Linked DNA regions of Homo sapiens: region 1 is linked to region 2. The links come from fine-mapping of genetic effects on gene expression. Tissue or cell type: anterior cingulate cortex. Region 2 holds a variant in brackets; the other region holds the start of a gene. All regions are shown on one strand. Distances are between the middles of the regions.

Region 1 (5,582 bases), 460 kb after region 2:
CAGTGCTTGGTTCTGTGGCCAGCTGGTAGCCATGGAAGATACCAGAGTAGGAAGGTGACTGACTTGCCTCAGGAAGACCACAACTGATTGGTGAGTTTTTCATTCCTATGGCTACAACTTTCCAGGAAGCAGAAATATAGTCATGGGTACAGAATGAACGTGGGGAACAGGTTTAATCTAGAGTACTGAGTGGTAACAGCAGGGCAGAAGAGCTTCTCTTTAGAAAGGCGGAAGGCATGGGGATAGGATGACCTCTGGAGTTTGCCTTTAGCACATCCTCTGTCTTGAGGGAACTCTGGATCATGCTCCCTAGGGCACCAAAAATTGGTGGGATCCAGGTGAAAGTGGCCATTCACCCAAGAACATCAAATGATCTTGGCCAGGTGCAGTGGCTCACACCTGTAATCCCAGCACTTGTGGTAAGCTGCGGCAGGCAGATCACTTGAGGACAGGACTTCAAGACCAGCCTGGCCAACATGGTGAAACTCCATCTCTACTAAAAGTACAAAAAATTAGCCAAGTGTGGCGGCCCGCACCTGTAGTCCCAGCTACTCAGGAGGCTGAGGCACAAGAATTGCTTGAACCCACGGGGTGGAGGTTGCAGCGAGCTGAGATCGCACTGCTGCACTCCAGGCTGGGCAACATAACAAGACTGTCTCAAAAAACAACAAAAACCTTGCTGACTTTGAGTAACACGAACTACCTAAGGTCCAGATATCATCTATCTCCCTAGATCCTGTTAGCCCAGCCTCCTCCCTTCACAAACTGGTTCCTATCATCACGGTCCCAGCTTGTCTAAGGGTGTCTCCGGCCTCTTCATCCACAGTGAACTACCAAACTGGGAATTTTGGAAGCGAGGTTTGGCTTCATTGTTCAACGAGAATCTTCCTGTATGCAAAGCTCTAGAACACTGGAGCCTTTGTAAGGAGGTGCCAATTAAAATGCCTGTCTCCTAGTAGGAGTGGGCCTCTGTTGCAGCTTTGTTTCTAGCCGTTAGACCAAGAGGGCAGTGGGAGCAACTTGCTCTGATGACCCAGTGAGCAGTGCAGGCACTTTACCTACACTGGGGAGGGGCTGGGGAACAAACTATGTAATCATTGGCTCACTCATCTGGAGACCTGTAGTATCATCTGGTTGTGCCGCCTATCATCTGTGTGGCTTGGAGCATGTCACCTAACCTTTGTGAACTTCTTAGGTAGACTAAGAATAATACCAACCTAGAAAGCCTATGGTGAAGACTAAGTGAACTAACATGTATGAAAATGCAAACATAATACCTATTCAAAGAAGACTTTGGAGAGGGATTAGTTTTCTTTCCCCCCATGCTTCCTGCACACATGTACTGAAAGAGTAACCAAATAATTAGACCTGCAGATGGAAGAGATTTCAGAGGTTTGAATGCCCTTAAACACAACCCCAATTAGTGATTATCCAGTCTCTACTTAAGTTCTCTGAAAAAAAGGATATCAGTTGCCAAGTCTTTATCATTTAGCGAGAGCTCTGCTAAGATGATGATGATGATGATTTTTTTTTTTTTTTTGAGATGGAGTTTCACTCGTTGCCCTGGAGTGCAATGGCACGATCTCACTTCACTGCAACCTCCGCCTCCCAGGTTCAAGCGATTCTCCTGCCTCAGCCTCCCGAGTAGCTGGGATTACAGGCTCCCGCCACCATGCCTGGCTAATTTTTGTATTTTTAGTAGAGACGCTGTTGGCCAGCCTGATCTGGAACTCCTGACCTCAGGTGATCCACCTGCCTCAGCCTCCCAAAGCGCTGGGATTACACGAATGAGCCACCGCACCCAGCTAAAGATTTTCTTGAAAGCCTGTCTAGATCCTGAAGAACTAATCCCCTTATCTCCCTCCCTCAGTATGATGAAGAGATTTATGAGCATCATTTGAAGACACATTCATATTATGTTTCTTTCAAAGGGGTATGAGCTCCTAGAATAAGAAGAGGCACTGGGCCAAGGAGCATGGCTGGGCTCCAGTTCCCAGGTCTGATTCAGTGTGATCTTTGTCATTTCCTTTTCTATGTCACAGTTTCCTCATCTGTAAACTGAAAGTTGGGCCTGATTTTTTTCATTTTTTCTCTTTTATGCATGTGCCAATTTGTTTCCCACAGAATACTGACATCTTTATAAGCTCTCAAGAAAGACATTATAAAAACAAATTTCAGATATACTTTGAACATAGGCTTCATTATACGACATATACCTCTTTCTGTTTGGATTTTACTGTCCACTTAATATAAAAACCTGTATTAATCACTAAGGAAAAGGATAGAGGAGACTTAGAAATATCTCCAGAATAATTTTGCAACAATTCCAAGATTCTCTGCACTTCTTTTTCTGTCCCTTAATTGGCCTCCTCCACATTTTCCAACTATGGAGGTATTGCTCTACTCTCTTCGACTTTACATTGTTTTAGAATGCTTTTGCAAGGAGACTCTGCCTTGAATGAACCCAAGATATGGTGCAATGTTGAGGAAGATCTCCAAGTTTACACATGCCTGTACGATGGCCCAAAGGTCATCATCAGGTGAAAGGGACGACCTTAGAGATGAAAGAAGTTCAAGGAATGGTGCTACATTAAATGACTTAGCATTAGAAAGCATCTACTTTGCTTTTTCTTTCACCAACCCTGAAAGCCAAATAAGGCACTGGGCATTCAGGCCTTCTTTTGAGCAGAACACGTGATTACGCAGTTATTCTTCAAGAGCCTCTGTTAATCTGTCGCTTGGAGAACTCTGCATACTGTCCCAAATCCGTCTGAATTTTCCATCGGCTGCCAGTGTTCGTAGCAGAGGCCTCGGGTCTTCTCGTCCTCTCCTCAGGGTCTGGCAGCTGTCACTACCGTGGACTTCGGTCCAGTCCCCAGAGTCGGGGGCGCTGCCTTTCCCATTTCAGTTGCCAGGGGGTTCATCCACGATCGTGCCAGAGGGGCAGCGCGTGGTCTCCTCGAACTACGGGGGAGAGAGGAACCACTGTTGGCACGGGCCGGACTGAACGCCGGCTCCCACTGCCTACCTCCTCGGAGCTGCATCCGCCGACATCTTGCGCCCTACTCCCAGCACCAGCAGGGCACTTCCGGGAAGAACGGAATTGCGGTTCCGCGCGTGCGCACTCCGCAGCCACCGCCTCCCGCGAGGAGCGAGAGTCCCGCGGCCCCGCCCCGCCGCCGCAGCCGCCGCCGCAGCCGAAGGCCGGCGTTTCTGACCTCAGCCAGCGGCGACGCAGCCGGGAAAGAACTGTCGAGGGCGTCTCCGTAGTTCAGTTTTGGTTTGTTTATTTGAGACGGAGTCTCTGTCGCCCAGGCTGGAATGCAGTGGCGCGGTCTCTGCTGACTGCAGCCTCCGCCTGCCGAATTCAAGCGATTCTTCTGCGACTGAATAGCTGGGACTACAGGGGCGCGCCACGACGCCCGGCTAATTTTTGTATTTTTAGTGGAGACGGAGTTTCACCATGTTGGTCAGGCTGGTCTCGAACTCCTGACCTCGTGATCCGCCCGCCTCGGCCTCCCAAAGTGCTGGGATTACAGGCGTGAGCCACCACGCCTGGCCCACCCCACTCGGTTTTTAAGGAGATAATTACAAGGTTATTTTACGGTTCATAGTGTGTTTCAGACCTCCCAGAAGCCTAACGGTGTATTATAAACCATTCTTTTCTTTGTTTTTAAATGCATTAAAAACCTTTTTTGAGATAAAAATAGTGCAAGTACATGGTTTAAAAAAAGAAAATCAGATTGCACCAAAAGGTTTATGATGAAAAACAATAATGTTCTGTCCCTTTGCCTCCAAGAGACTCCTTTTTAAAATCTTTTGGGCTGGGCGCGGTGGCTCACGCCTGTAATCCCAACACTTTGGGAGGGTGAGGCGGGCGGATCATCTGAGGTCAGGAGTTTGAGATCAGTCTGGCCAACATGGTGAAACCCCGTCCCTACCAAAAATACAAAAAGTAGCCGGGCGTGGTGGTGGGCGCCTGTAGTCTCAGCTACTTGGGAGGCTGAGGCAGGAGAATCGTTTGAACCGGCGAGGCAGAGGCTGCAGTGAGCTGAGACCGCGCCACTGCACTCCAGCCTAGGCAACAGGAGCAAAATTCTGTCTCAAAAAAAAAAAAAACTTTTATACCTTCTAGTAGTTGTCTCCATTAGGTTTGATTTGGAACATGCTTTCCAGCTACAGGGTTCTTAAGATCATACTTGCTTTTCCTGAGCTGCATCATCTTCAGCTTCCATTATACAGGCTGACGAGGCTCAGTAGCACGGCAGGGCCACTGGCGTATTGAGAAATGGATGGTCACCGTCTTCGCATCCGAGGGTTGTGTGGCGTGCCTCGCGCCAGGAACTCCTTGGCCACTCCGCAGTTTCCTAGCTAGAACCCGGCTTCTGAGCCCAGCACGCTCCAACAGCAGCCTGCCGCGGTCCACGCCTCTGCTCCGGACTTGACCTTTCCCTTCCGGCCTTCCTCCTACAGGTGTCTTGGCACCTGGAATCTCCAGAGGAAATCTGAGGGATTCTCTAAACCCACAGCTGGAACAAGGGACGTCATACACGGCGGCCACCACCATCTTTCCCAAGGACAGCATGGCCATGGATGAAAAGGGCCATTTCATGGGCCTTACCTTCTGCTAGCCAGTATAGCCTAAAGCCCTGATACTCAAATGTAGACTCTTAGGCTCCACCCGGAGGATTCCCTAGGTCTGGGCAGGGCTTGGGAAGCTTAGCAGGCTCCTCAGGTGATTCTGCTACAGATGGTCCAGGACCAGTCTCTGAAAAACACTGTCCTCGGGAAATTGCTTTTATGTATTTACTTTTTCCATCTCTTCTTGGTATTTTGTTATCATTTTCAAATACAGAGACGGAGTCTCACTATGATGCCCAGGCTGGTTCCGAACTCCTGGGCTCCAGAGATCCTCCTGCCTTGGTCCCCCAAAGTACTGGGATTACAGGCACAAGCCACCACTCCAGCCGGGAAATTACTTTTAAAACAGATCTATTTGTATGAGATGTTCTCACAAAACTACTTAGAATAGCAAACAAACAAAAAAAAAGTGATAAAGCTCCCAAACCCCACTGTTGTGCAGAATTAAACATACTTTTTTTTTTTTTTTTTTGAGATGGAGTCTGTCTCTGTTGCCCAAGCTGGAATGCAGTGGTGCCATCTCAGCTCATTGCAACCTCTGCCTCCTGGGTTCAGGCGATTCTCCTGCCTCAGCTTCCCGAGTAGCTGGGACTACAGGCGCGTGCCACCATGACTGGCTACATTTTGTATTTTTAGTGGAGACGGGGTTCGCCATGTTGGCCAGGCTGGTCTTGAACTTCTGACCCCAAGTGATCCACCTTCCTCGGCCTCCCAAAGCGCTGGGACTACAGGCATGATCCACCACACCTGGCCCAAACATTATGCTTTAATGAAGAAATGACATTTTGCCATTAAACCTAAAATATCACAGAACCATGGATTGAAGAACAGACATGAATTACCTTGAAATCATCTACTGCAGTGCCTGAGTGGCTTTGCCTGTTCTCACAGCATGAATTCTCAGTTCACACACAGTAAAAAAAAAAAAAAAAAAATTATGA
Region 2 (6,266 bases):
TAGAGCCTCTGGACTAATTGAAATCCTTAAGAAGAGAGTGTAAATAGTGAGAAGAGGGCCCAGGACCAAACTCCGAACACTCCAACATTCACACACTGAGCTGAAAAGGAGGAGGAATTAGCAAAGGAGATTGAAGTAACAGGGGAACAACAAAGTGAAGGGGCCAGAAGAACCGAGAGAAGAAAGTTGCTCAAGAAGAAAGTGGTGCTTAACTGAATACTGTTGACCCTGGAAAGCAAAATAGGACTGAAATTATTCAGGATACATGAATGCAATGGAATTAAATATGTCGTGAACTGAAGATAATCTACATGATTACCTCCACAGATGTAGAAAAGGCTTTCAGAAAAGTCAACATCCCTTCATGTCAAAAACTCACAATAAACTAGGTATTGAAGGAATGTACCTCAAAATAATAAGAGCCATCTATGTGACAAACCCACAGCCAACACCATACTGAACAGGGAAAAGCTGGAAGCATTTCCCTCGAAAACCTGCAGAAGACAAGGATGCCCTCTCCCACCACTCCTATTCAACATATTGAAAGTCCTGACCAGGGCAATCAGGCAGGAGAAAGAAATAAAGGGCATCCAAATAGGAAGAGGGGAAGTCAAACCAACCCTGTTTGCAGATGACATGATTCTACATCTAGAAAACCTTATACTCGCAGCCCAAAAGCTCATTCCACTGGTAAACAACGTCAGCAAAGTTTCAGGATAAAAAATGAATGTACGAAAATTACGAGCATTCCTATACACCAACAACAGCCAAGCTGAGAGCCAAGTCAGAAAGGCAATCCCATTCACAATTGCCACAAAAAGAATAAAATACCTAGGAATATAGCCAACCAGAGAGGTGAAAGATCTCTACAATGAGAATTACAAAACACTGCTCAAAGAAATCAATTACAAAACACTGCTCAAAGAAATCAGAGATGACACAAACAAATGGAAACACATTTTATGTTCATGACTAAGAAGAACCAATGTCATTAAAATGGCCATACTGCCCAAAGCAATTTATAGATTCAATGCTATTCTTATCAAACTACCAACAACATTCTTCACAGAACTAGAAAAAAGTATTTTAAAATTCATATGGAACCAAAAAAAGAGCCCGAATAGCCAAGGCAATCCTAAGCAAAAAGAACAAAGCTGGAGACATCACATTACCCAACTTCAAACTATACTACACGGCTATACTACAAACTATACTTCACCAAAACAGCATACTACTGGCACGAAAACAGACACAGACCAATGGAATAGAACAGAGAGCCCAGAAATATGGCCACACATTTACAACCATCTGATCTTCAGCAAAGCTGACAAAAACAAGCAATGGGAAAAGAACTCCCTATTCAATAAATGGTACTGGGATAACTGGCTAGCCATATGCAGAAGACTGAAAATAGACCCCTCCCTTACATCACATACAAAAATCAGCTCAAGATGGACTAACGACTTAAATATAAAACCCAAAACTATAAAAACCCTAGAAGACAACCGAGGCAATACCATCCTGGACATAGGAACAGGCAAAGATTTCATGGCGAAGATGCCAAAAGCAATCGCAACAAAACAAAAATTGACAAAAGGGATCTAGTTAAATTTAAGAGCTTCTGCACAGCAAAAGAAACTATCAACAGAGTAAACAGTTTACAGAATGAAAGAAAATGTTTGCAAACTATGCATCTGACAAAGGTCTAATATCCAGCATCTATAAGGAACTTAAACGAATTTATAAGAAAAACACAAACAAAAAAGTGGCAAAGGACATGAACAGACACTTTTCAAAAGAAGACATACACGGGGCCAAACAGCACTTGAAAAAAAGCTCAACATCACTGATCATTAGAGAAATGCAAATCGTACCAGTCAGAATGACTATTATTAAAAAGTCAAAAAAGAACAGATACTGGCAAGGTTGTGGAGAAAAGAAGACTTTTTTTTTATACATTGTTGATGGGAGTGTAAATTAATTCAACCATTGTGGAAAGCAGTGTGACGATTCCTCAAAGAGCTAAAAGCAGAACTCCCATTCGACCCAGCAATCCCATTACTGGGTATATACCTAGAGGAACAGAGATCATTGTATTATAAAGACGCATGGCCCTGACTGTTCATTGCAGCACTACTCACAATAGCAAAGACATAGAACCAGCCTAAATGCCCATCAGTGACAGATTGGATAAAGAAAACGTGGTACATACACACCATGGAATACTATGCAGCCAAAAAAAAAAACAGAAGGAGACATGTCTTTTGAGGAAACATGGATGGAGCTGGAGGCCATTATCCTTAACAAACTCATGCAGGAACAGAAAACCAAATACCCCATGTTCTCACAAGTGGGAGATAAATGATGAGAACACATGGACGCAAAGAAGGGAACGAGACACTGGGGTCTACCTGAGGGTGGAGGGTGGGAGGAAGAGAGGAGCAAAAAAGCTAAGTGCTTGATACTAGGCTTAGTGCCTACGTGATGAAATAATCTGTACAGCAAACCCCCATGACATGAGTCTATATAACAAACTTGCACATGTTCCCCTGAACCTCAAATAAAAGCTTTTTTTTTTTTTTTTAAGAATTAAAGATCGTTTTAAACTGTGTGCTTCAGACATAGCTAAGTCAGACTGGTCTCCTTCCCTAGTATAGACTTACAGGAGTTGACTGTCATTATTTCACTGTGATCGCCTTTCAACTCCTGCTTCCAGTATAGAAGAACTTTTTCCTTTGTGTTCCAAATCTACCTTGAGCTGGAGCCACCTCATATTGGGAAAGCTGATTATTAATTTTTCAAGAATTTTGTGATCCAGTTGTTCAAAACAACCATTATTAAAAATTAAATTGGCTGGGCGCGGTGGCTTATGCCTGTAATCCCAGCACTTTGGGAGGTCAAGGTGGGCGGATCACAAGGTCAGGAGTTCGAGACCAGCCTGGCCAATATGGTGAAACCCTGTCTCTACCAAAAATACAAAAATTAGCCGGGCATGGTGGCAGGTGCCTGTAGTCCCAGCTACTCAGGAGGCTGAGGCAGGAGAGTCACTTGAGCCCGGGAGGCAGAGCTTGCAGTGAGCCAAGATTGTGCCACTGCACTCCAGCCTGGGCAACAGAGCAAGACTCCATCTCAAAAATAAATAAATAATTAAATTAGATAAACC[A/G]TCAATTAGATCCTAAAAACAAAGGTAGTCAATATTCAAAATACATCAATTATTAATTATCATCCTACATTTTACTATAATCTATGCCCTTGAGGTTATCTGTATGTGTATGGTAGAAATACTATATGAGAGTGTGCTACTATCCATCTTTTCCCAGTTCCACATCAGTGACATCACGTTGGTAACTTAAAATTGTGGGAATAGTAACACCATGGAAATTGGCAAATGGCACAAGCCAGGGCTTTTTGTTCCGGAGAGCAAGTGGTTAATCAGCATATCACTGCTGATGCAATCCTTTGCCTGTTTCCCTTGAACGTACAGGTGAGTGGATAGGAAGCTGTTTGGTGTCTGGTTGGTTGATCGGATGACTGGACGGATGGGCGATGGATTGATTGTATGGCTGGAGGCTGCTTCCCTTTCTGACAGTCACTGGACCCTAAAGACCATGTCCCCAGTGCATGAAACAGCAGAGCAGCACGAGGATGGCCTGACTTTAGATGGTCAGCCAAAGGCCTATTCTTAGCTGAAACCCAGTATCAGTCTGCTCACTCTTGCCTAAGTATAGGAAGTGGACAGCTTGCTTTGAGAAGTGGGGCAACATATCCACCTAAATGTTGCTGGAATAAGTAAAGCATTCCCTGCAGAGGAAAGGGACACCTTTATTCTCTTCGTGTCTGCAGGTGGCTTTGGTGCCAAGCTGTCCCCTGCCTGCTTCTGTTTTCACCCCCAGCCCCAGTGCTGCAGGCTGATGGGGCTCCTTCTCCACTGACTCGCGTTTCCTCATATTCATGGAGCTCTGCCGGCAGCTAGGCTGAGGGAGGAGCTGGGCATACAGCTCTGGCCATACAGAAGGTGCTGGTAAGAAACGGAGGCAGAGAGCAGTGCAACAGGATGCAGAGGGACCGGCACTATCAGGAGTGAGAGAGGTGAGAATGGCAGTGGGGTGGTGTGTGCGACCTCCTTCCACGGGAGCAGCAAGACGAGGCACCATGGACTCATTTGTATCTGCCGCCTCTTGTCCAAGCAGCTGTTGGAAAACAACTAACACCATTTTCTAGGACCCTTGAAAGGGAGGAGGTTGGGTTCCAGCCCCAGCTCTGCTTCTGATACCCTGTGTGACTCTGAGTATATTAATTCGCCACTCTGGGCCTCAATTTCCCATCTATAAAATAATTATGAGCTTAGATCAGTATCCCCATGTTAAAGGATACTTACTCTGTGGTCAAAAAAGTTTCTTGGGCAAATGTTTAAGAAACACTCCATTCACACTGGATCCCCTTCTTGGGGATTCTTAGTGCTCCTCAGTGCATTAAAGGCTCTGATCAGTCCTGCAGGAGAGGGCCATGTTTATTTTTAACCTAGCATGTCCCAAATGTATTTATCCACAGAAACCTTTTGAGACAATTGCTGTTCTGGAGTATCTCAGAATCGAGGTCCCTTTCAACTCTCTCATCTGTTCTGGTTTTATGGACTGTAAGACAGAAACGTCCTCCATGTGAGGAGTGCCTTGGAGGAGAGAGATGGACCATGTAAAGATGGAGGGAGTGGCCAGGCATGGAGGCTCATACCTGTAATCCCTGCACTTTGAGAGGCCAAGGTGGGTGGATCACGAGGTGGAGATCGAGACCATCCTGGCCAACACGGTGAAACCCCGTCTCTACAAAAAATACAAAAATTAGCTGGGCATGGTGGTGCGTGCCTGTAGTCCCAGCTACTCGGGAGGCTGAGGCAGGAGAATCGCTCCGACCCGGGAGGCAGAAGTTGCAGCGATCCAATATTGTGCCACTGCACTCCAGCCTGGTGACAGAGCAAGATTCCATCTCAAAAACAAACAAACAAACAAAAAAAGATGGAGGGAGCTTTTGGAACGGATCTTCAAGGATGGCCAAGAGCCTTCTACATGGAGGAAGGGTCCACTGAATATAACTTGCCACATTCCAGGAGGAGTGGTGGGCATTTCGTGTTAATTTCCAAGTCACTGGCCTTGAAATAAAGTGGAACAGGATGGAACGGCCATTGTGAGCCTGCTCAATTCCACGTGCTAGATATACATCATGTTATTTAAACATGAAAGGAGGGGACATTGTGCCCATTCAATAGATGAGGGACACAAGGCTTCAAGAAATTAAATGGCTTGCTCAGAGCCACATCCCTAGCATGTGGGAGAGCTGAGGGGTGGTCCAGAGCTTTCTGATTCCAAAGCCTCCATTCTTTCCACCCCACTGTGCCTTTCCCAGGAGGCAGGGAGGCCTTGGCTTGGCTTGGGTTAATTCTCCTTTTCCAGGAATGACCTGCAGCTGTTCCTATTGCCCCGGAGGCCTGGGCAGTTCCTCCCCACCCAGAGGGCTCCTCCGCTTGGCCACCCAGGTTGGCTGCCCTTGGAGGGCCATTTTGGCTCTGGCCTCCTGAGAAGCTCCAGTCATTGCCGCTCTGTGGCCTGGCTGTGGCCCCTCCCCTGCCATCCATCCCACACTACAGGTTCGCCAAGAACCTGCACGTCCCTGGCTTCTGCCTGGTGCCCTGCATCTCATGTCCTAGAGGAAGTCTCCCCAGTCCTCCCGGGCCCCCTCTCCTGGCTCATCAGAGGCAGCCCTGTAGTAGGGACATACATGTGTTTTTCCCCATGGGCCTGTTTGTTCCTAGAGGATAGGGGCTGCATCTCCTGCATGGCTCAGGAGCCCTGGCTGCTGGCCCTGGGGTTACTGTGGGAAGCCAGGGTCAGCTGGCACTTTCCTGAGTGTCACAGGCATTTTCAGAACCCTGCTCCTAGTCCCCCTTTCTTTACCCCCCTACCACAACTCCAGAGGTCCGCATGAGTGTGTGGGCCTCCCTGAGATGCAGGAGGGTGAGCTGGATAGAAGCTGGGCTGTGGCATCAGACAGAGCAGCCCCGACCCTCCACCTACTATTGGGGGACACAGGCAGGTCACTTAACTTCTCTGAGCCTCACCTGTAAGATGAAGCTCCCAGGGTGGTCTTGGGAATTGACAAAACAGTGCACTTAAAGTTCTCATCCCGGGCCCTGCACACAGTGAGTGCTTAACATGCTGTAGTGATGGAGGTGGAGGAGGAGAACGGAGAAGGGAACTGAATGTCAGAGCCTG

What was found. PIP is the estimated chance that this variant, and not a neighbour inherited with it, causes the effect.
Region 1: it holds the start of TMEM44-AS1, and the variant in region 2 is fine-mapped to the expression of TMEM44-AS1 in anterior cingulate cortex (GTEx, PIP 0.97).

The regions. Positions count from the first base shown.
Region 1 is chr3:194,581,508-194,587,089 of GRCh38, reverse strand. It overlaps TMEM44-AS1 (TMEM44 antisense RNA 1), which reads right to left and starts at 2,822. Exons shown (of 3, transcript NR_047575.1): 1 at 2,642-2,822. RefSeq lists enhancers at 2,806-2,855, 2,891-3,556 and a silencer at 3,046-3,305.
Region 2 is chr3:195,045,942-195,052,207 of GRCh38, reverse strand. No RefSeq gene overlaps it. Among named protein-coding and RNA genes, the nearest start is that of XXYLT1-AS1, 46 kb to the left of the region's middle. The variant A/G (reference allele first, on the strand shown) is at 3,164.